Linked DNA regions of Homo sapiens. The protein of the gene in region 3 purifies or fractionates together with the protein of the main gene of each other region. This does not show direct contact. Each region holds a gene or a part of one and is shown on either strand. Other genes may lie near its edges.

Evidence for each region. Proteins that work in one complex are often made in the same cells at the same time.
Region 1: the proteins of ALPG (region 3) and B3GLCT purify together in Homo sapiens (affinity purification with mass spectrometry; 2 studies listed by BioGRID and IntAct, with this or other methods). This does not show direct contact.
Region 2: the proteins of ALPG (region 3) and USP16 purify together in Homo sapiens (affinity purification with mass spectrometry; 2 studies listed by BioGRID and IntAct, with this or other methods). This does not show direct contact.

The regions. Positions count from the first base shown.
Region 1 is NC_000013.11:31,202,962-31,209,987, forward strand, and holds part of B3GLCT (beta-1,3-glucosyltransferase precursor), read left to right. Parts: intron 1-3,325; exon of another isoform or gene 3,326-3,365; coding exon of another isoform or gene 3,366-3,378; intron 3,379-7,026. UniProt on the Homo sapiens protein: O-glucosyltransferase that transfers glucose toward fucose with a beta-1,3 linkage. Specifically glucosylates O-linked fucosylglycan on TSP type-1 domains of proteins, thereby contributing to elongation of O-fucosylglycan.
Region 2 is NC_000021.9:29,048,655-29,055,001, reverse strand, and holds the end of USP16 (ubiquitin carboxyl-terminal hydrolase 16), read right to left. Parts: intron 6,242-6,347; coding exon 6,147-6,241; intron 4,911-6,146; coding exon 4,824-4,910; intron 1,201-4,823; coding exon 1,044-1,200; intron 937-1,043; coding exon 815-936; 3' UTR 514-814; downstream 1-513. UniProt on the Homo sapiens protein: Specifically deubiquitinates 'Lys-120' of histone H2A (H2AK119Ub), a specific tag for epigenetic transcriptional repression, thereby acting as a coactivator.
Region 3 is NC_000002.12:232,402,097-232,409,863, reverse strand, and holds the start of ALPG (alkaline phosphatase, germ cell type preproprotein), read right to left. Parts: upstream 3,021-7,767; 5' UTR 2,970-3,020; coding exon 2,903-2,969; intron 2,808-2,902; coding exon 2,691-2,807; intron 2,579-2,690; coding exon 2,463-2,578; intron 2,271-2,462; coding exon 2,096-2,270; intron 2,020-2,095; coding exon 1,847-2,019; intron 1,598-1,846; coding exon 1,463-1,597; intron 1,364-1,462; coding exon 1,291-1,363; intron 1,161-1,290; coding exon 1,026-1,160; intron 944-1,025; coding exon 752-943; intron 533-751; coding exon 416-532; intron 291-415; coding exon 1-290.

The sequences.
Region 1 (7,026 bases), on a different chromosome or scaffold from region 3:
AAACCTAATCCTATTGCCAAACCTAATCCTAATTGATAGAAGAAGCTTATTCGAACCAATGATATTGATAAAATAATAGGTATTAGCTTTTATTTTTCACATGCCTGTCTGTCACTTCCCTGTGTGAGCCAACTTTGTATTTCTTAGCACCTGCCAAAATTGGGGATGGTTTTTCATTCTGAGCCAGGTCTTGCCCAGATTCCTTTCATTGCAATGAGTCAGAAATTTTAGGACACCAAGAGTCAGACCTAATTCCAGGTTGTTTTGTGTTTTTTGATTCTTAAAACCTTCTCTTTATTTCTTAAGCAGTATGCAGATATTACTGGCACAGATTTTAATCTTCTGGATGGATTCTTTGTCATCCAGGTAGTCCAGGACCTCCGAGTTGGCATGGCTCCCCAGGTCATGGACTTGACCCAGGGGAGTTTGCCAGTAGCCAACAGCTAAGCCAGTGGGAGGGAGGGAGAGCATCTGTTTCAAATAGCAGTGTGAATTCGAAGGAGGTGCTTTGACCCCTTTGGTAACTTCCTGCGGGACAAACATTGTGGGCTCGGTATTTGAGCACTTCCTTATAATTGGCTCTTTTGGAGCCAGGTTTTTTTGGTGTGTTTTACTAGACTCATTATGAAGCAAGCAAGCAAGCATAATTTTTAGGCATAAAGGTACTACTTAGAGAAAATTTGCAAATGTTCTGTTTTTCCTCTTGTAGCATTATGTGTGATCCATCTTTGGCTTTGCACAGATTACTTCTTAAGAACAATATATGGGAGTCCCCATAGGTTAATCTCATCTTTTCCATGATAAAGGAAAAGTTGTGAGTTTCAAGGGTTCATCAGACCTATTGAGGAAGTTCTTCCTTACTACCATGATTTCAAAGTTCTAGTCACTAAGCAACTCCCAAAGAAACCTGATTTAACGTAGGCGTTGACTTGAACTACTAGAAGAATGTCAATTTAAAAATAGTGTTAAAAAGAAAAACTGCCCAAAGCCTCTCATTTATTCAGAGTAATGTGGGTACCTACTGTGTGTCAGGCATCGTGATATTGCAGGAACAAGACAGATCTAGTCTGTCTCTACCCTTGGGGAGCTTGCAGCCCGAAAGGCAAGGTGATGTTAAGCAGTAATGACTACAGAATGAATCGTGTCTGTGCCAAATGCTGTGGAAGAGATGTTCAGGATGCTGTGAGAACATGCTGCAGGGAGATAGATGGCTTTTGCCTAGACTGGGGAGATGGATCTCAACAGGGAGCCATCTTGCACCCCAGGGAACGTTTGTTGCTGTCTGGATACTTTTTGGTTATCCCAGGGGCTGGTTTGGCAGAGGGTGCTACTGACATCTAGAGTCAGGGGTGCTGCTGAACATCCTACAAAGGCACAGGACAGTTCCACCCCACCATCGAACAATTAATTATCGGATCCAAAATGCCAACAGTGGCAAGCTTGAGAAACTGTGGGGTAAGGGTCAAGGAAGGCTTCCTAGAGGATGTGACGTTAGAGCTCAGACCCGAAAGGGAAGCAGAAATCAGGTAAGTGGGTGGCAGAGCTTGGTGGTGAAGGAGCCAAGTGGAGAAAGGACGGAGGACTGAAGGGCTGGCAAGATCATTAGGGGCCAGGTTGGGTAGGGCCTTGCAGATCAGGGGACATATTTTGGGGTCATCCTTAGAGCAGAGGGAAGTGTTTGAAGGGCTGTAGTGGGGCAGTATGTGATATGGCTGCCGTTTCCTGAAACTCACTCTGGCTGTCTGATGGAGCAGGAGTTGGAGGGGGCCATTGTGGATATAGGGAACTGTGAGGAGGCTGCTGGACACAGGTTGTGAGAGATGATTAATAATCTCTCAGACTCTGGGACTGATTAGGTTCAGTGTGCTGGGAGAAAGGGTGGGGGAAAGGATGAGTCATACATTTCTGTCACATCCACCATGGGTAGTAGTGCTGTTTACTAACTTGGGCACTGAAGGAGGAGGACCAGGTTTTTAAAAACAGTTTTATGTGGTTCAATGTACATAACATACAGTTTATTAAGTATAATGAATTTTAAGTGTATAGTTCTATGGCATTAAGTACTTACACAATTTTTTGAAATGTACTTTGACTTTTAATTTTAGGGGGAGGTGAAGCTGAGTAAGTTCAGTTTTGGACAAGTTGAGTTCAAAATGCATGTGAGATGGCCAGGTACCATGTTAGGTGAGCAGTTAGATATTTGGGTCTGTAGAGGACAGGTCTGGCTGGAAGGTATTTTGGGGGGTCATTATATTAGGTGGCAATTTGAGTAGGTTTTTTTTTTTTGTTTTTTTTTTTAAGAGTTGGGTGTCTGGTCGGGCATGGTGGCTCACACCTGTAATTTCAGCACTTTAGGAGGCTGAGGCAGGCAGATCATTTGAGGTCAGGAGTTCAGGACCAGCCTGGCCAACAAGGTGAAACCCCATCTCTACTAAAAATACAAAAAAATTACCCGCGCATGGTGGCGTGTGTTTGTAGTCCCAGCTACTTAGGAGGCTGAGGCAGGACAATCGCTTGAACCCAGGAGGCCGAGGTTGTAGTGAGCAAAGATTGCACCACTGCACTTCAGCCTGGGTGACAGAGTGAGACTCCGTCTAAAAGAAAAAAAAAAGTTGGCGGGTCTGGCTATATTGCCCAGGCTGGACCTGAACTCCTGGCCTCAAGTCATCTGTCTGCCTTAGCCTCCCAAGCAACTGGGACTACAGGAATGTTCCACTGCACTTGGCTGTTTTATGTTTGTTTGTTTTTAAGGAAGAGAGTCTTGCTTAACAGAATAAATTCATTTAAGCATTTACTCAAAATGTGTATATACCAAAGATTTGGTAGAAGTTGGAGAGGAAAGCAGTCTTTATCTACATATATCTGCATGTTGTAAAGCTGAGGGTTTAGACAAAACAAAAATAAAAACAAAAACAAGTATAAGTATCATCAAATAAGAGTTGAATGTATCTTAAGTATAGCAGTGCCATTTCCTCCTAGGGATATGACTTATTTTCACTCCTAAAAGAATATTTTATGTAGCTGAAAAGATGATATATTTTAGTTTATATCATTGCTTCCCGTAAGAAACTCAAGGCTCTTTACACATCACGTTGAATTTATCTTCTCCAGATCCTTGATGGGGGATATGGAGGAGCTTGTTTTTCGTTTACGAGCTAAATGAAGTAAAGGACGTTAAATGGCCTCAGCCCGTTGTGAAAATAGCCCCATTCAGTTCCCTTGAGTTCCTGTCTAGTTGCCCTTCCCAGTGTGTGTCAGACTTCAGCACACATGAGAATCATCTGTGTGTCCTAAAGAAGCCTGTATTTGTTAAAATGCAGATTCCTGCGTTCCAGCTCCAGATTTTCTGATTCAGAAGATCTGAAATGAGACTTCCAGGTAAGTTTTCTGTGAAGCCAGGTGTGAGAACCCTGCCTGGGCCACCATAGGCCCGGATATAAACTAGGACTCTTACTGGGTGATTTCTGTGAACATCTGTGGAATATAAAGATGATCAAGCCCGGGCGCAGTGGCTCACGCCTGTAATCCCAGCACTTTGGGAGGCTGAGGTGGGCGGATCACGAGGTCAGGGGTTCGAGACCAGCCTGGTCAACATAGTGAAACCCTGTCTCTACTAAAAATGCAAAAAAAAAAAAAAAAAAAGGTAGCCGGGCATGGTGGCGGGTGCTTGTAATCCCAGCTACTCGAGAGGCTGAGGCAGGAGAATCGGAGGTTGCAGTGAGCCAAGATCATGCCATTGCACTCCAGCCCGGGCGACAGTGCGAGACTCCATCTCAGAAAACAAAAAAAAACAAAAGATGATCGGTGGTTGTTTTGCCTTAAAGTAAGGAGTTGTTCTGGAGAGAGCAAAGTGTGGCATTGAGGCCTACTCCTCAGTCAGGTCTTTTGTGTACTTGGGAAAGGAACTGGAAACACCAGAACTAAAACTATGAAGTCTGTCTCAGGCTCCAGGATCATTTGGCAAATTTTTAAATGCTGCTGAGGAGACCATAGTCCGTGGAGCATGAGTATCAAAAGTTAGAGCCGTGAGTTGTTAAAGCAAAGGTTTTTGGGCAATATACAAATAAGTTTCTAAAGGCTTAGAGCGTCTCAGATTGTGTGTACCATGGATTGAGTGGTACTGAAAGGGGTACTTACTTTATCTGTATGTCTGTTTATCCATCTACCTACCCATCTGCACACTAAGGGGGTACTTTTAAAGACCTACTTCTTGTAATTAATAAGATGCCCAAAAGTTAATCATAAATTATATTTTTATAAGTTAAGCCTGACAGTTAACTGTTCCATAGTACACTTGCAATTTAAAGGAATCGCGTAAACTGCTAATTTTTTTTTTTTGTTTGAATGTTTGCTGTGTTCCTCTTTGATGTGTTCTGTAGTAGGCTGTGTGACCAGGGATTTTTCTGACCCTTCCTATGACTTAGGCTATGGAACATGCTAGTGAGGGTGGGGTTTTAAATCTCACCCCCAAGACTGTTTTGAGTTGCAATTTTCTGGTTTGCATATCCTGAGTGACGGTTTTTAAACAAGATGCAAATCAAAGTATGAAATGATCTTTTCCCTCTTGAATATATATAGTTATTTTCTATTTTTCTCTTTTTTTTTCACTATCTACTGTGCTTCCTGTAAAATATATTTACTCTCTGGCCCATAGAATATGTTGGTCTCATCAAACTTTGTTGTCAAGTGAAGAAAAGCTAATATTCCAGTGTTTCCCATGACTTCTGTAATAAAACAGGAGAGGAGTTTCAGATGGAACTAGATCATATCTGAGTCGATAGTAGGCTCAAAGCAGGAATATTGTGTCTGCATGCTTGCTGCCTCAGTGTGGTGGGAGGCTTGGCCTCCTTCCTCACTACTTCTCTCCACTGGCTGAATTGTCCTGGCATCTTTCCCAGCAGCAGATCTCTTTTCCTAAGAGTTTACTGTTTGGCACTTGAGCAAAAGGCTCAATAGGTTTTACCATAGGCCAGGTACTGTTTTGAACCTGAACATACATGAACTCACTTAATTCTTGTTCCATTTCTTCCCTCTACAGGGAGGGAAACAGAGGCTCAGAGAGGTTGCTTAACTATTAAGTGGCAGCGCTCGGATTTGAACCTAGGAGGTTTGAGTATACTTTGTCTTTGTACTTTGTACTCTGTACACAGTACAAAGTACTCTGTACTTTGACCTTATGCTGTATGACTTCTCAGGCAGGGCCCCGGCCCGGGTCTCCTCTACTGCCACATCTTTCTGTTGTACAGTGCAGCTTTAAGGAGAGAGTTCTTTGAAAGGATTCATTAAACAGCTGCCTTCTCTCCTGCTTCTCCTCCCCATCTGGCCATTCCTTTTGTCTCCTTTGCAGTTTTGTCCTTAAATGTTGCAGTTCCCCTGAGCCGTCCTTGGCCTCACGAGCCTTGGCTTCCGTTCTGGTGCGCTGTGGAGACTCTAGTGCTGCAGCCGCTATTGCACGCACACCCCTGTGCTGGGCTCACCCCTGCACCCGGCTCTCCTGCCTGTCTGCACTTGCGTATCCTCAGGACGCTGGGCACCAAGTTGCCTTCCCTCACACGTGCTACCCTCCTTTATTCTAGGAAGCCCCAGGCCCTCCCTTCCCGTCTCACCCCCCACCCGGGTGCTCTGTCTCAGAGCCTGCAGCTTCTGCTTCTTTAGTGGCCCCCCCCCCCCGCTCACTGCCACCTTCATTGAGGCCCTTAGCGCTCTTTGCTTGACTCCAGTGGCCTTCCCACTGGCATGTTTGTGTCCTTTCTTGTCCTCCCACAGCCGTCCCACACACTGCCTCCAGAAAGCTGTCTTGGGCACACATCTCAACAGGGCATTCCCTCCTTAAAACCTCAAACAGCTGTTCCTGGCTCAGGAAAAACCTGACTCCCCAATACCACCCCCTCCCATGATATGGCCCCTGGTACCTTCAGCCTCATTTCTAGCCCCAGCCACCCGTCCCCACAGGGGTTCCTGCCCGGGTCACCCCCTCCTCAGAGGGGTCCCTGCCCGGCCGGGTCACCCCCTCCCCTCAAGGGACCCTGCCTGGGTCACTCCCTCTTCTGAGGTATTTCTGCCACCAAGTGTGTTGACCCTGCCATTGGCCTGCCCTGTATAAAACCCAAGAGGGAGAGAATAAAATCCGATGCCCCTTAAAAAACGTACGGAGTGACAGGGCCTTCCATCCCATGGTTGGAGGTGCTGTCCCATGGTAGATGGAGCTGCTACCCAGCTTGTCTGCTACTGTGGGGACAGGGGACAGTGGATTTGTCCCAGTAGGGTGGAGAAAAGGCAGACTTTACCTCTGTCGCTGGGCTGCAGGGGTGTTTGTTTCTGTCCCTCTGCTACCATGGATTATCTTCAAAGTGGGTACTTGGAAACAAGTAAGTTGGCTATGCGCCATGCATCCTGGAGCTTAAGGCCCCCTGGAGGACCTGGAATTAATCCTGGAAAGCTCCACGGAGAGGCAGCTGCTGGAGGCTGGAGCCAGCTGGGTGACATGCTTTGTAAGTAGGTCACAGGAAAGAAAGTGAAGCCCCAAAGGCTTCCTCCCCCAGCGTGTTAGAAAAGAAGTGGCAGCCTGCATAGCCTGGAAGGAGCGCCTGAGCCATGTGTGCTTCCAAGACGGCTCTCTGTGAGCTTTGGCCTGGGTGGCAGAGCCACAGGTACCGGGTTTTATGCTCTCCTGGCTTTTGTGCAGGGCAGGCAACCACCTAGACACTTCCCAGACTGCCAGTCATTATCATTGTGGTCACCAGCATGGCCACAGCTATTGGCTGAGCTTTTTTATATATTCTGAGCTGATGCCAAAAGTTTAGGCATTATCTCATTGGTTCCTGCCAGCGCCCTCTGAGGTGGAGTTATTTGGCAGCTTAGTGGTTTTCTTGTTTTTACTGTTCCGTTTGGTTTCTATGATAGATGTTCCTGGGAAAGTTTGGGAAAACAAATTAAGAGAATTGGGACAAAATCAAGTTAGGAGGTAGAAGGCACAATCATCTTTCCTGCGTGGGAATGGGGGTCCCTTGCTCCCTCACAGGAACA
Region 2 (6,347 bases), on a different chromosome or scaffold from region 3:
ACTATGGCATCAGAAGGCTTATAAAGAAACATTGCTCCCATTTATATTCTGCTGTCAATATAGATGCTTATAAAATTAACACACTTGTATGGCCCAGCGCGGTGGCTCAAGCCTGTAATCCCAGCACTTTGGGAGGCCAAGGCAGGTGGATCACGAGGTCAGGAGATCGAGACCATCCTGGCTAACACGGTGAAACCCTGTCTCTACTAAAAATACAAATAATTAGCTGGGCGTGGTGGCGGGCGCCTGTAGTCCCAGCTGCTCGGGAGGCTGAGACAGGAGAATGGCGTGAACCTAGGAGGCAGAGCTTGCAGTAAGCTGAGATCGCACCACTGCACTCCAGCCTGGGCGACAGAGCAAGACTCCGTCTCAAAAAAAAAAAAAAAAAAAAAAAAAAAAAATTAACACACTTGTAATGAAGCTTCATTAGCCAGTCTGATGAAATATTTTTTAAAGTGTTACCTAGTAGGATAAGTCAATAGAAGTTAAAATCTTCCCAGTAATAAAACAAGATTTTAGGGTAAGTCAGTTTATTGATGTGTTGTGATCCATCACCCAGATATATTAAACACAAAGTACTTAAGTAATTCAGGATTTCCTTTCCAGAAACAAAGCAGGAATAAAAACCACTATGACAATATAAAACCTTTGTACATTTTTAGGTATTTTTCCCTTCAATATTTAAATAAACATGATTTCTTCTGGCATGTATTTAATGTTAAGTGAACATGATTTTAATTAGTCTTTTTTTATCGTTATTTCAGCCATTATAAAAGCCATAAATGTGTTTCCAGAAAAAGTGCTTTTGATATTATTACAGTATTCTCTCATAAAATAGGAGGTACGCTTGTGAGTTTAGTACTTTAGTTGTAGGCACAGCTTGCACATGTGTGTCGCTGATGTGAAACCACTGCCCTTTTGATTCCATTTCAAAATCTGTCATGAGAAAATGAAAAATCAAACATAAATGGAAAGATTCAAGTTGATTACTTTTTGGTTTTGCCGTAATCTGCTGAGTGCCTGAATTTTCCAAGACATCTTACCTTGTGGAATATCACCGTGAAGAACAAGATTAGAGAGATGACTATTTGCGGTTCTTGCCTTGGCATAGGCAGTGTAATGCCCCGACCTCATAGTACCACTGTGTTCAACAACTCCATATAAGGAATAGAGTACCCTTGTATTTTCTTCTGCAACATTCTTTAAAAATGAGTAGAATCCAAAAGTTAGTTCTAGTTCCATTTACACAGATGTCATGGGCAAGACAAGTTTACACTATGCAAAGGGTCTTTAACCATTACTTTGAGAGTGCAGAAATCATTCATGAGTCTACTCTTTTCTCCATACCTCTTCTCAGCCTGAGACACTTCTGTTTTTATTATAAATTCACCATTGTTCCCCTGGTAGAAAAGCTGTAAGCCACAGGCCACTTGATGCAGTTACCTGGCTCAGATACCAAATAACTGAATTCAACTTGCCAGTTTCTTTAGGAGCCTGAGGATAATTCTTAACAACCCTAGCTATTAACAACTCTGAATACCCTGTTTAAAAAAAGGTAAGCCCTGAACAGGAAGAGAACAGTATTTTAGGTTGTGCCAAAAATTACCCCTTACATCTTTAAATGTCCCCAAGGGAGTTGGTGAGAAGCACATTCAACCTCTCAAGTGTTCACTTTCCCCACGAGAGAGTGCACGCTGCTTATTCTTTCAGGACTCTATATGCCATAGGGCTGGCAACAGGAACAGGCATTCTCTGGGCCAGGAGCCACTTTTCAGACAACTATTTATGTTCTCATGTAAAAGTCCGTAACAGGCATCACGGCCCTTCAGTAGTACTGTCTCCTATACTCAGCTTCCCAATCTGTGCCTCCATATTCACTGAAGAACTTAGTACTTCTCCGTCCATCTATGATTCTCACAGGACTTTAAATGCCATTCCATTTTAGTCAACCACACCCAGGACTAGAGTCTGGGCTTGTCATCACTCAGAATTGTTCAACTTCATAAAATTTTTTTTGAGACAGGGTCTCACTCCGTCACCCAGGCTGGAGTGCAGTGGCATGATCTCAGCTCAATGCAACCTCTGCCTCCTGGGCTCAAGTGATCCTCCCGCCTCAGCCTCTGGAATAGCTGGGACTACAGGTGCACACCACCATGACCTGCTAAATTAATTTTTTGTAGAGATGGGGTTTCAGCATGTTGCCTGGGCTGGTCTCAAACTCCTGAGCTGAAGGGACATAAATCTTATTTTTAGTCTTAGTCCACAAGTCTTCTATTTATTCAACTCTCATCTCACCTATTCTGTACTCTTTAACCTAACAGGATCTCCAATGCTCATATTCTCCTCACCTATGAAGACTTTTGGCTTCATTCCTGATATGGTTTGGCTGTGTCCCTACCCAAATCTCATCTTGAGTTGTAGCTCCCACAATTCCCACATGTCATGGGAGGGTACCCGTTGGGACGCAACTGAATCATGGGAGCAGGTCTTTCCCATCCTTATTCTTGATAGTGAATAAGCCTCATGAGAGCTGATGGTTTCTTAAGGGGGAGTTTCCCTCCACAAGCTCTTGCTTTGCCCGCTGCCATCCATGTAAGATGTGACGTGCTCCTCCTTGCCTTCCGCCATGACTGTGAGGCCTCCCCAGCCATGTGGAACTGTAAACCTCTTTCTTTTGTAAATTGCCCAGTCTTGCCCAGTATATCTTGTCCAGTATATCTTTATCAGCAGCATGGAAACTGACATAATATAATTCCCATATGCAGTCTAGACCATTGCTATTCAAAATGTGGTCCATGAACAGCCAGCATCAGCATCACCTGAGAGTTTACATTAAACATGCAGAATTTTTGATCCCATACTAGACCTACAGAATCAAAATTTGTAGGTCTGATTCCCACATACACATTAAAGTTTGGGAACTTCAATCACATGTATCACTTACAAATAATCTCCTCCATATCCAATTCATCACAAAACCTCACCCTGAATCCTATAATGTACCTGCCATGCCCCAAACCCAGATGGCCACTACTGCCAAGAAACAAAAGTATAATAAATGATCATGTACCTTGTCATAGTCCTCAATGTGACCATAATCTTATAAATTGTCCTTAGCGGCCTCTTCCATTATGCCCATCACAGCAACTGGCCCAGACTTTTTTTTTTTTTTGAGGGAGTTTCTTGCTCTGTCACCTAGGCAGGAGTGCAGTGACGCAATCTCGGCTCACTGCAGCTCTGCCTCCCAGGTTCCAGCAATTCTCCTGCCTCAGCCTCCCGAGTAGCTGGGATTACAGGCGCACACCACCATGCCTGGCTAATTTTTGTATTTTCAGTAGAGACAGGGTTTCACCATGCTGGCCAGGCTGGTCTCGAACTCCTCACCTCAAGTGATCCACCCGCCTCGGCCTCCCAAAGTGTTGGCATTACAGGCGTAAGCCACCACGCCCAGCCCCAAATTCTTCAACATGGAGATTCTTTGAGATCCTTTGTGGTGTCCTCACTTTCTACCCCTGCCTCTTCCACTCAGATACTTAGGAGGGTCCTGTCATTGGCCATCTCCTTTTTCTCTCTTCAGACTCTATACACAAGGGATCCCATCTTCTCATAGTTTAAACTGCCACATATGTACTGATTTCTAAATCTGTGCCCTGGGCCCATCCTAACCTCTCTGCTATAGGTCTCAGATATGTATATCCAAATGTTTTCTAGACTAAGCACATTAATTTCTCAAAGGTATCTGACACTCAAATGTATCTAAAACTGAAGTCATTATCCTTTCTCTACCTGCTTTTCTCAACCTGCTTTTCTCCCTATATATCCTATCTCAATTTACAGCACTCCCATCTGTCGTGCCAGGCCTCAGGAATCATCCTCAACCCTTTCTCTGCCACCCTCAGCATCCACTTATAAAAGGCCTCTGCCTCACCTTACAGTGCCAATCAATCATTAAGTCTGGTTAATTCTACCTCCTGAAATATTCCTTCTATCTCCCCATCTCCTGCCCAACTTTAAGCCCTCATCAACTACTGGCTGAATTAATACAACAGCCTCCAAACTCACTTCCCCACCTCTAGTCTTTCCGTCCTAAAATTCAGCCTTCATACATCAACAAGTAACCTACGTCATATGAAGATCTGACCATGCCACCCCAGTGCTTTAAACTCCTCAGGGCTCCCCACTGTATACCTAATGAAGTCCAAGTTCCTCACCATGAGAACCCTCCAAAACTTCATTCCTATCTCACTTCTCTGGCTTCATTTCTCAACTCTCCCTATAACCTTGTACTATAAACTCTAGAACTACATACGTTACCAGTCTCTGGCAATCACCATCCTATTTTACACTGCTGTTTTTACTCCTGCTGTTCCTTCTGCCTGCAAAACTCATTTCATCTTGATTCATCATACTTTTACTCCTTCTTTAAATATAGTTGAGGCATGGTTTACTTTACAAAGCCATTCCTGAACCACCAACATGCTGGGTTAAGTGTATACCACTCCTGACCTATGTTCACCAGCCTTAACATTCAACCACATTAAACAGATTATTCATTAATAGATCTGCTCACCTTTAGTTTTATGCCCTCCGCTCACAAGACAATGTATGCCATAATAAAGGGGATTCCAAACGTTGAACTGAAATAACCCATTCTTCAAAATGATTCATCACTAATCTTCAAATTATAAAGGTACAATGATCAAAGACCCACTCTACTCAATAAGTGTTATCAACTTCATACTTAAGTGAGTTGCTACTGGAGCATTAGGTAAGCCACAATTTGACTTTAAAGGACTTTCCTGAAAAAGACCACTTTGACTTACCTTACATTTAAGGGTGCAAAAAGGAGCCAAATCTAAGATTTCCGGAAACTTTATGTGTTTGTTAACTTTGCGTAGGTTAAAACCAGCCTAAAAGAGAAGCATAACAGATTGACTTCTTTTCTTGGAAAAGCAATACAGGTTAAGTAAACCGAAGTCCCCTCCGACGTCCAAAAGAATATCAACATTAAGTCCTAGTTCAATTTTCTTTGGAGACTCAATTCTTCCTGAACACTAACTGATTCCAAGTTGGTTTGCTTTTGCTAAGTACACATGTATCACACAAAAAACACACACCAACACATTAAGAAAGCTATTCCCAGCTGGACACGATGGCACATGCCTGTAATCTCAGCACTTTGGGAAGCTGAGGCAGGAGGATCACTTGAGCCCAGGAGTTCGAGATCAGCCTGGGCAACACTGTGAGACTCTGTCTCTACAAAAAAATTAAAAAATTAGCTGGACATGGTGGTAGCCACCTATAGTCCCAGCTACTATAGAGGCTAAGGTGGGAGGATCGCTTGAGACTGGGAGGTCAAACCTTCAGTGAGCCATGATCGTGTCATTGCACACCAGCCTGGGTGACAGAACAAGACTGTTTCAAAAAGAAGAAAAACAACTTTTCTCGTGAGAAAATTCTCAATGTTTCTGCTTCAGCCATCCAGAAATGCCAGATTAGACCACAGGTTCTGAGTGCTTAAAACTCAGCGATAGCATAATACTTTTCTGTGAAACACACGCTCTCAGCCTCATGCTCAAACCAAGCTTAGTGAATTGTTAATAAAGGCCCACCCAATTAGTCAAGCCCATACCAACCACAAGAGGCAAAACGTTCTGAAGATACTGAAAGTACTTTCGGAATTTGCAACACAGTTTAGAAGTTATACAGCTATAGCAAAAGTTTTCCAGAAAAGATGAGGTCACCAAAATGATGACAATCCAAGGCACCAATGTCTTTTTATCAAGGGTCCGTAAAAACAAGATGCCACACACAAAACAGAAAAAATCACTAATATTCCTAAGCATGAGATATATGTAACACACCAGTCTTTTTCTTTTTTTAACCTGAAATAAAAGTAAGATGCCAATCGTACTAAAAAGAGGGACATAAATGAGTTCTAGGAAATCTGAGGAGATTGTGCCTCCATCTTCACATGCGCCTCTGCCTAGCCCCTATGTTTTTCCCTTTCTGACTTCATTGACATTACAGTTAAGAAACAACAGAAAACCAAAGAAACAAAGTAGTATGTTGAGACAGTAATGAAAAAAATAGGTAATAAAGTAGGTGTTACATATTTAAAACAAATTTTGGGTAACAAGGAGTACCTGCTGAAATCTCTTTAAATGAAGAGTAAGAACAGGAGGAGCAAGAGAAATTAGCATCTGCTTTTTGGCATTGGTGTAAACATGCTTCCTTTCACCTAAAGAAAAGAAGAAATTTTTAACAGGGAGAAAATCATTTTAGACCCCTAAAGCATTCAGATTTGCTATAAAATCATTCCAAACATCTAAAGCAAGGATCAGTAA
Region 3 (7,767 bases):
AGTGGCCGTCCCCAGCAGCAGCAAGGTCCCTGCCAGCAGAGGAAGCAACGCGGGGACCACGGACGGCCCCGGGTGCGCGGCGTCGGTGGTGCCGGCGCGGGGCGCCAGGTCGCAGGCGGTGTAGGGCTCCAGGCAGGCGGCGAAGGCCATGACGTGCGCTATGAAGGTCTGCTCCTGCACGCCGTGAACCAGGTGCGCCTGCGGGCCGCGCGCGAACACCGCCACGTCCTCGCCTGCGTGGGTCTCTCCGTCCAGGGGCACTGCTGACTGCTGCCGATACTCGGGGCTCCCTGGTTGGAGGGTTCAGTTTCAGTAGGAAGTTTCAGTTCCAGGCAGACAAGAGGTGACCCCTTCCCGCCAGCCCCCCATCCTTGGCACCCTGGTCCCCCTCAGGGGGCCACCCCACGGCACTCACCGCTCTCGCTCTCCGTAACATCCGGCCGGGCGCCGTCCTTGAGCACATAGCCTGGACCGTTTCCGTATAGGAGGACCGTGTAGGCCTTCCTGTCCCGGGCCTTGCCAGGGGCCAGCCCTGCAGAGAGAGGGGTCCCTGTGGTTGAGCTGAACACAGCTGTGGAGTGTCTCCCACGTGCTAGGCACCGCCACGTTTTGCCTGGTCAGGGGCTTAGTCCGCAGGAGACCCTACAGGGCTGGTGCCAGCATTACTCCCATTTGACAGAGGAGGAGACTGAGGCTCAGATTTCACCCACTTAATTGCTGCAGCAGCACCTGCCACTCTCCCCAGGCCTACCGAAGATGGAGCTCCCTCGCAGGGGGTAGCCTCCGAAGGAGAAGACGTGGGAGTGGTCGGCAGTGACGAGGCTCAGCGTGTCCTCCTCGCTGGTGAGCTGGCCCGCCCTCTCAATGGCGTCGTCGAACATGATCGTCTCAGTCAGTGCCCGGTAAGCCCTGCTTTCATGATGACCATGGTCGATGCGACCACCTGCAGGAAGGCCAGAGGGGGGAGATGCTGAGCCTGCCCTGCTCCAACCCCCAACCCCCACTCCCCAGGGGCCACCACGCACCCTCCACGAAGAGGAAGAAGCCGCGGGGGTTCCTGCTCAGCAGGAGCAGGGCAGCCTCTGTCATCTCCATCAGGGAGGGGTCCAGTGTGGAGTCTCGGTGGATCTCGTATTTCATGTCTCCAGGCTCAAAGAGACCTGTGGGACAAGGGGTCCTGTGGTGACTGGCAGGCTGGGGGTGGGAGGGTGCTGGCGGATGTGCACACAGGCTCAGAAGGTGCCATCTGAGGCCATCTGAGGGATGCCAGGGCAGGAAGGGGGTCATTACCCATGAGATGGGTCACAGACGGGTCCAGGGAAGCCTGCAGGAGCTCAGTGCGGTTCCACACGTACCGGGCACCCTGCGGGGAGGGAGAGAGCCAGGCCTCAGCCCACAGCCCCGAGCCCCACACCTCTGCCCTCCCCCTGCTGTGCCCAGCACACCCACCAGCCCCCATCACCTGGTGCTTCGCCAGCCATTCCTGCACCAGATTCTTCCCGTCCAGCCTGGTCCCACCTTGGCTGTAGTCATCTGGGTACTCAGGGTCTGGGGTCCCCATGGGAAACATGTACTTTCGGCCTCCACCTAGGATCACCTGGGAACAGAGGATGGGGCAGGTGGATTTGGGGGCCTGGCTGGCCCCGTGTCCCCTCCTCATGCACAGCCCCTGACTCCCCTCCCCAAGGCTGTGGGAATGGCCCAGCCTGGGCTGCGCCTTCTACGCCCCCAACCCCACCTCCAGACCCTGCTGGCCCAGATAAGGCTTTTGGTTGCCTGGGTCTGAGCTGGTGCCCCCTCCCTGCTACTCTCTGCCCAGCCCCAGCCCTTGGCCCGGGGGTCGCACATCAATGTCCATGTTGGAGATGAGCTGCGTGGCGATGTCCTGGCACCCCTCCTGGCGGGCCGAGGCAGGCACGTCGGCATCCGAGTACCAGTTGCGGTTCACCGTGTGGGCGTAGGCGCCGGCTGGCGAGGCATGCTGCACCCGTGTGGTGGTTACCACTCCCACTGACTTTCCTGAGGGTGATAGAGGTCAGGATATGCGATAGAGGTCTGTCACCTGGCCCTGACCCCACAGCGGGCCCCAGCTCACCTGCTTTCTTGGCCCGATTCATCACGGAGATGACCTCGTTGCCGCGTGTCGTGTTGCACTGGTTAAAGCGGGCGGCTGCACTCAAGCCAATGGTCTGGAAGTTGCCCTTGACCCCGCACAGGTAGGCCGTGGCTGTGGCTCCACTGTCTGGCACATGCTTGTCTACACTGTATGTCTGGGGACAGAGACACTCTGAGCTCTTCTCTGGGGCAGACAAACAAGACCCTGATCTCTGTCCTCTGGGATTCCAACTGCCTCCAGCTCCTTATTGGAGCCCCAGCTGTTTAGGGTCCCTCCCTCCTACCACACTCCATAGCCAGGATTCCCCTTCTCTGCTTGGAGGACTCTAAGGTAGCCCAGCACTTACCTTGGACAGAGCCACGTACGGGAAGCGGTCCATGGCCAGGAAGGTCTCAGGCCCCAGTTTGTCCTTCTTCTGCCCTTTTAGGATCCTGGCAGCTGTCACCGTAGACACCCCCATCCCTGAAGGAGCAGAAGTGTGTGAGGCTTGCTCCCCAGGGCTGTCCTGGAACCACTGAGGGTCCGGGCGCCGGGGCTGTGAGGGCTGCGGGGCTGGAAGGCCTGGCTCACTCACCGTCACCCAGGAAGATGATGAGGTTCTTGGCGGCTGTCTGTGCAGGCTGCAGCTTCTTGGCGGCACCCAGGGCCTCGGCTGCCTGGCGGTTCCAGAAGTCCGGGTTCTCCTCCTCAACTGGCCAGGGGGAGAGCAAAGATCAGGTCAGCCTGGGCTGGGGGGTGCCCTGTGTGTGTGTGTGTGTGTAGGGGCAGCTGGGGGAGCCTCATTACCTGGGATGATGCCCAGGGAGAGCTGTAGCCTCAGGCCCAGCAGGAGCAGCACCCAGGGCCCCTGCATGTCTGGAAGCAGTCGGAGAGCGGCGAGGCGGAAATCCCAGGTATGGAGTATGAGCTGCACTCCAGGCTGCCTGGGTTTAAATCAGGGAAAACTGTGTCCTGGCCCCTCCCCTTGTTACCACCTTGACCCCGCCCAGCCTCTTGACCTGAAGCCACACTGGCTGAAGGGAGTGGCAGGGTGTGGCTGGGCTGGGCTGGGGCTGGGGTCCTGAGAAAGGCAGCTTAGGGTGGGACCAGGTGTCCCCCAGGGAAGGGTGGGATTTTGGGTATAGTGCAGTGTGCATCCTGCCGCCAGGGGCCCCTCCCCCAACCCCTGCTCACTGTGTCTTGTGTGGAACTAGACACCCTGTCACTCGTTCATCCACCATTTTTTTTTTCTGTATTTCCTGGGAGCTGGGGGCCAGGCTCTGTTCTGGTGTCGAGAGGAGGGGAGGCTGGAAGCACACAGCCCGGGCCAGATACTGGGTTCAGCTTTCTGATGCCAGGAGCCTGGGCCCGGTGGGAAAGGGGCACATGGGGGGCTTTGCCGCTCTGGCACCCCCTTGCTCCAACATCTGGCCTTGGCCTGGACAGGTGGGGCTGGCAGGAATCTAGGCCCAGAGCTCCAGGGCTGTGGGCATCTGTGGGGCCAATGGTGACAACACTGAGTGGGGCCGGGCCAGTCCTGCCCATTGCTTACATGTTGTGTTTGATTGTGTATGTGTTTGTGTGGGTGCACTCGCACTAATGTTTGGACGACGCAGTGGGGGAGAGTCCAGTGCCCTCGGCCAGACAGGCCTGGGCTGGGTCTTCCAGAGCAGCTTGTGCACTTGATTGTGACACCTGTTCCCTTGCACAGGCAGAGGGTGCCTGGGCGGACTCTGTTTTCGGTGGGCCCTGAGCATGCCCAGAACTGTAGCCTTTCACATGGGGATCAGATGTTTTGATAGCCTCAGGCTGAGTTAAAAAGTATTTCTGCAGTTCAGATACCTTGCCATCATTTTTTTCTTTCTGTTTTATTATTATTATTTATTTATTTTTTTGAGACAGGGGCTGGCTCTGTCACCCAAGTTGGAGTGCAGTGGTGCATTCACGCCACACCTCCTAGGCTCAAGCGATCCTCCCACATCAGCCTCCCGTGTATCTTCCATTATGTGAAGCTAATTTTCAAAAATTTGTGTAGAGTCAGGATCTCTTTCTGTTACCCGTGCTGGTCTTGCACTCCTGGGCTCAGGCGATCCTTCAACACTGCTAGGGTTCCAGACTTGAGCCACCAATCTGGGCCCACATTCAGGAGAAATGGATTTGGAGAGGAACCAGAGTGCTCAAGGGTGTGTGACATGTGCCACAATCGTGGGCAAAACAGACCTCTGCCCTTGTGGAGGGCACAATCTAGTGGAAGAGGAATGTTTTTAGAGATGTACAAAGTGCTGGCCATCAAATTGTGGGGAGTTGCTGGAATAGGACAAGGGGCCTAGGAAGGCCTTTCCTAGAAAATGTGGTTTGAAGGCCGGGCACAGTGGTTCACGCCTGTAATCCCAGCACTTTGGGAGGCCGAGGCGGGTGGATCACAAGGTCAGGAGATCGAGACCATCCTGGCTAACACGGTGAAACCCTGTCTCTACTAAAAATACAAAAAATTAGCCGGGCGTGGTGGCAGGCACCTGTGGTCCCAGCTACTCGGGAGGCTGAGGCAGGAGAATGGTGTGAACCCGGAGGTGGAGCTTGCAGTGAGCCAAGATCGCGCCACTGCACTCCAGCTTGGCCGACAGAGCAAGACTCTGTCTCAAAAAAAAAAAAAAAAAAAATAGAGGAAGTGTGGTTTGAGCTGAGAATTAGGGATAACTGGGAGTTAGGCTGATAAAGGAAGGGAAGTGGTGATTGGAGGAGAAATCCTCTGTCCTTGTCTGAGATTACCCTGTGTTAGGGCAGTGGCTGACCCTTTTCTGGGATCACCCAAAATGGGATAGTGGGTGGGTGAGACATGTGGACTGTCAAAACTAGTAGATTCTGAATCCTGTCTCTGCCATGTCCTGCTGTGTGGCCTTGGGCAATTTACTTGTCTCTCTGTTGCTTCTGATAGAAAAGGAGGGTAGTGAGGGAGATTCAAGTTGAAGACAGACAGAGTTAATCATGTTTAAAGTGTTGGCTTTGGCTGCTGTGTGGAGATTGGATTAGAGCGGGGGTGTTAAGGAAGAGGGAGGGATTTGGGTTCCTGGTGAGAATCAAAGTGGCTGGGGCCAGGGTTTGGTGTTGTGGGTGGGGAAGAATAGAAAGTGATCTTTTTTTTTTTTTTTTTTGAGACTGAGTCTTGGTCTGTTACCCTGGCTGGAGTGCAATGGTGTGATCCCGGCTCACAGCAACTTCCGCTTCCGGGATTCAAGCAGTTCTGCCTGAGCCTCTTGAGTAGCTGGGATTACAGGCATGAGCCACTATGCCCGGCTAATTTTTGTATTTTTAGTAGAGATGGGGTTTCACCATCAAGGCCAGGCTGGTCTCAAACTCCTGGTCTCAAGTGATCTGCCCGCCTCCGCCACTCGAAGTGCTGGTATTATAGGTGTGATTAGAAGTGAAAATTAATTGGACTTGGTTGGTGAGGGAGTGGTCAAAGGTAACTCCCAGGTTTCTGGCTTCTGTTATTATGAGTAAAACAGAAGAGTGACTGAACTTCATTAATATATTTTCCATTTGTTGTGGTCATGCAAAAAAATGTTTTCCATCTGTTCCATTTAAAGATGAATAACAAAAATAAACCCTTATTTACTCTGTAGGGATAAATCTTTTTGAGAAAAAGATTTAAAGCCTTTGAGTCTCCCACCTTTCTCCCCAGAGGTAATGACTATCCTGTATTTTGGTTAATCTTGACTTTGCTGTTGATTGCTTTTTACCACATATGCATGTTTTCCTGAATGATATAGTGATTTGTTTAGTGTGTTTTTCAACTTTATATTTATTCTGATTAGGGTTCATTGATAATTTTATTTATTTATTTTTATTTTTTAACTCTTTTTACTTTTTTATTTTTTACACTGTAGAAGTTATCATTATAAACTTTTTCAATCCAAGGGTTTATAACAGTATTTTTTTTTTTTCATTTTCGAAAGACATTTTTTCAGTGTTTCACTCTGTCACCCAAGCTGGAGTGCAGTGGTGTGATCTCGGCTCACTGCAACCTCTGCCTCCCAGGTTCAAGTGATGCTCCTGCCTCAGCCTCCCAAGTAGCTGGGACTACAGGTGCAAGCCACCACACCCAGCTAATTTTTTGTATTTTTAATAGAGACAGGGTTTCATCATGTTGACCAGGCTGGTCTTGAACTCCTGACCTCAAGGCATCTGCCCGCCTTGGCCTCCCAAAGTGCTGGGATTACAGCCATGAGCCACCATGCCTGGCTGGTTTATCACAGTCTTAATAAAATTGGGAAAAAATTTGAAAACCAGAATAACCAAAAGGATGGCTGGGCATGGTGGTTCACACCTGTAATCCCAGTCTTTGGGAGTCCAAGTCAGAGAATTGTTTGAGCTCATGAGTTCCAGGCCAGCCTGGGTTATATATGTGCATATATATATATACCCAAAAGGTAGAAGAAACCAAATGGGGTCATCCACCCAACGAAATATCATGCAGCCTTGAAGGAGGCCCTGGAGAAGACTCTGTTACAACGTGAATGGACGGTTAGGACATTACACCTAGTGAAATATGAAAGTCACAAAAGGACAAATACCGTCTCCTGTAAAATAAGATTCTTAAAAACAATAACAAAAAGGGCAAATGCATATGAACACACTTCTCTGAGGTCCCTAGAGGAGTCAAATTCATAGAGACAGAAGTGGAATGGAGGTTACCTGGGACTGGGGGAGGGGGCAATGGATTAGGGTTAGGGTAGGGTTCGGGTTAGGGTTAGAGTTGGAGTTTAATAGGGACAGAACTTCAGGGTTGCAGGATGAGAACGTTCTGGAAATCAGCTGCACAACAATGTGTGTGTACTGAACACTTGAAAATGGTGAAGGAGGTAACTCTGATGTACCATGTTATGTAGCACAATTCAAAATTTGGTCCAAGAAGAAAAGGCTCCTCCAGCTCCACCCACCCCAGCCCAACCACAGCAGCCCCTTCTCCACTCAGGCCTGTTTACCTCAAGCCCCAGGCTTGGCCCCCAGAATCCAGGGGACCTCACCTGCTGCCCAGCCTCTGCCTGCCCTACCCCACTCCCCACCACACCTAGGGCCTCCCTCAGGCCGAGCTTTCCTGGGTCCTCCTGCCTGCACCCGCCTGACTTCCTGCTGGTTGTCCTGGACCTCTCAGGGAAGATGTCACCCTCATGGGCCCTTCCTGTCTCCTGCTTGTTGCCCCCTTAGTTCCCTCTACCTCCTGCTTCATCTTGCTGAGTTCGGAACATTCTTGGCTAAAGGTCAGAGGAGACTCACTAACAGGCACGCCCTTAATTGATTGATTGATTCACTCCAAAGGCAAAGCCAGTCAGGAGCTTTCCCAGCCATCCTGAGGTTTGGTTTTGTTTTGTTTTGTATTTTGTTCGGTGTTTTTTTTTTTTTTTGAGACGGTGTCTCACTCTCTCGCCCTGGCTGGAGTGCAGTGGCGCCATCTTCCGCACACTCTGCCTCCCAGGTTCAAACGATTTTCCCACCTCAGCCTCCCGAGTAGGTGGGGTTACAGGTGTGCACCACCACGCCCGGCTAATTTCTTTTAAATTTTTTAAATTTTTATTTACTTTGTTTTAGATGGAGTCTCACTCTGTTGCCAAGGCTGGAGTGCAGTGGCACAATCTTGGCTCACTGCAATCTCCACCTCCCAGGTCCAAGTG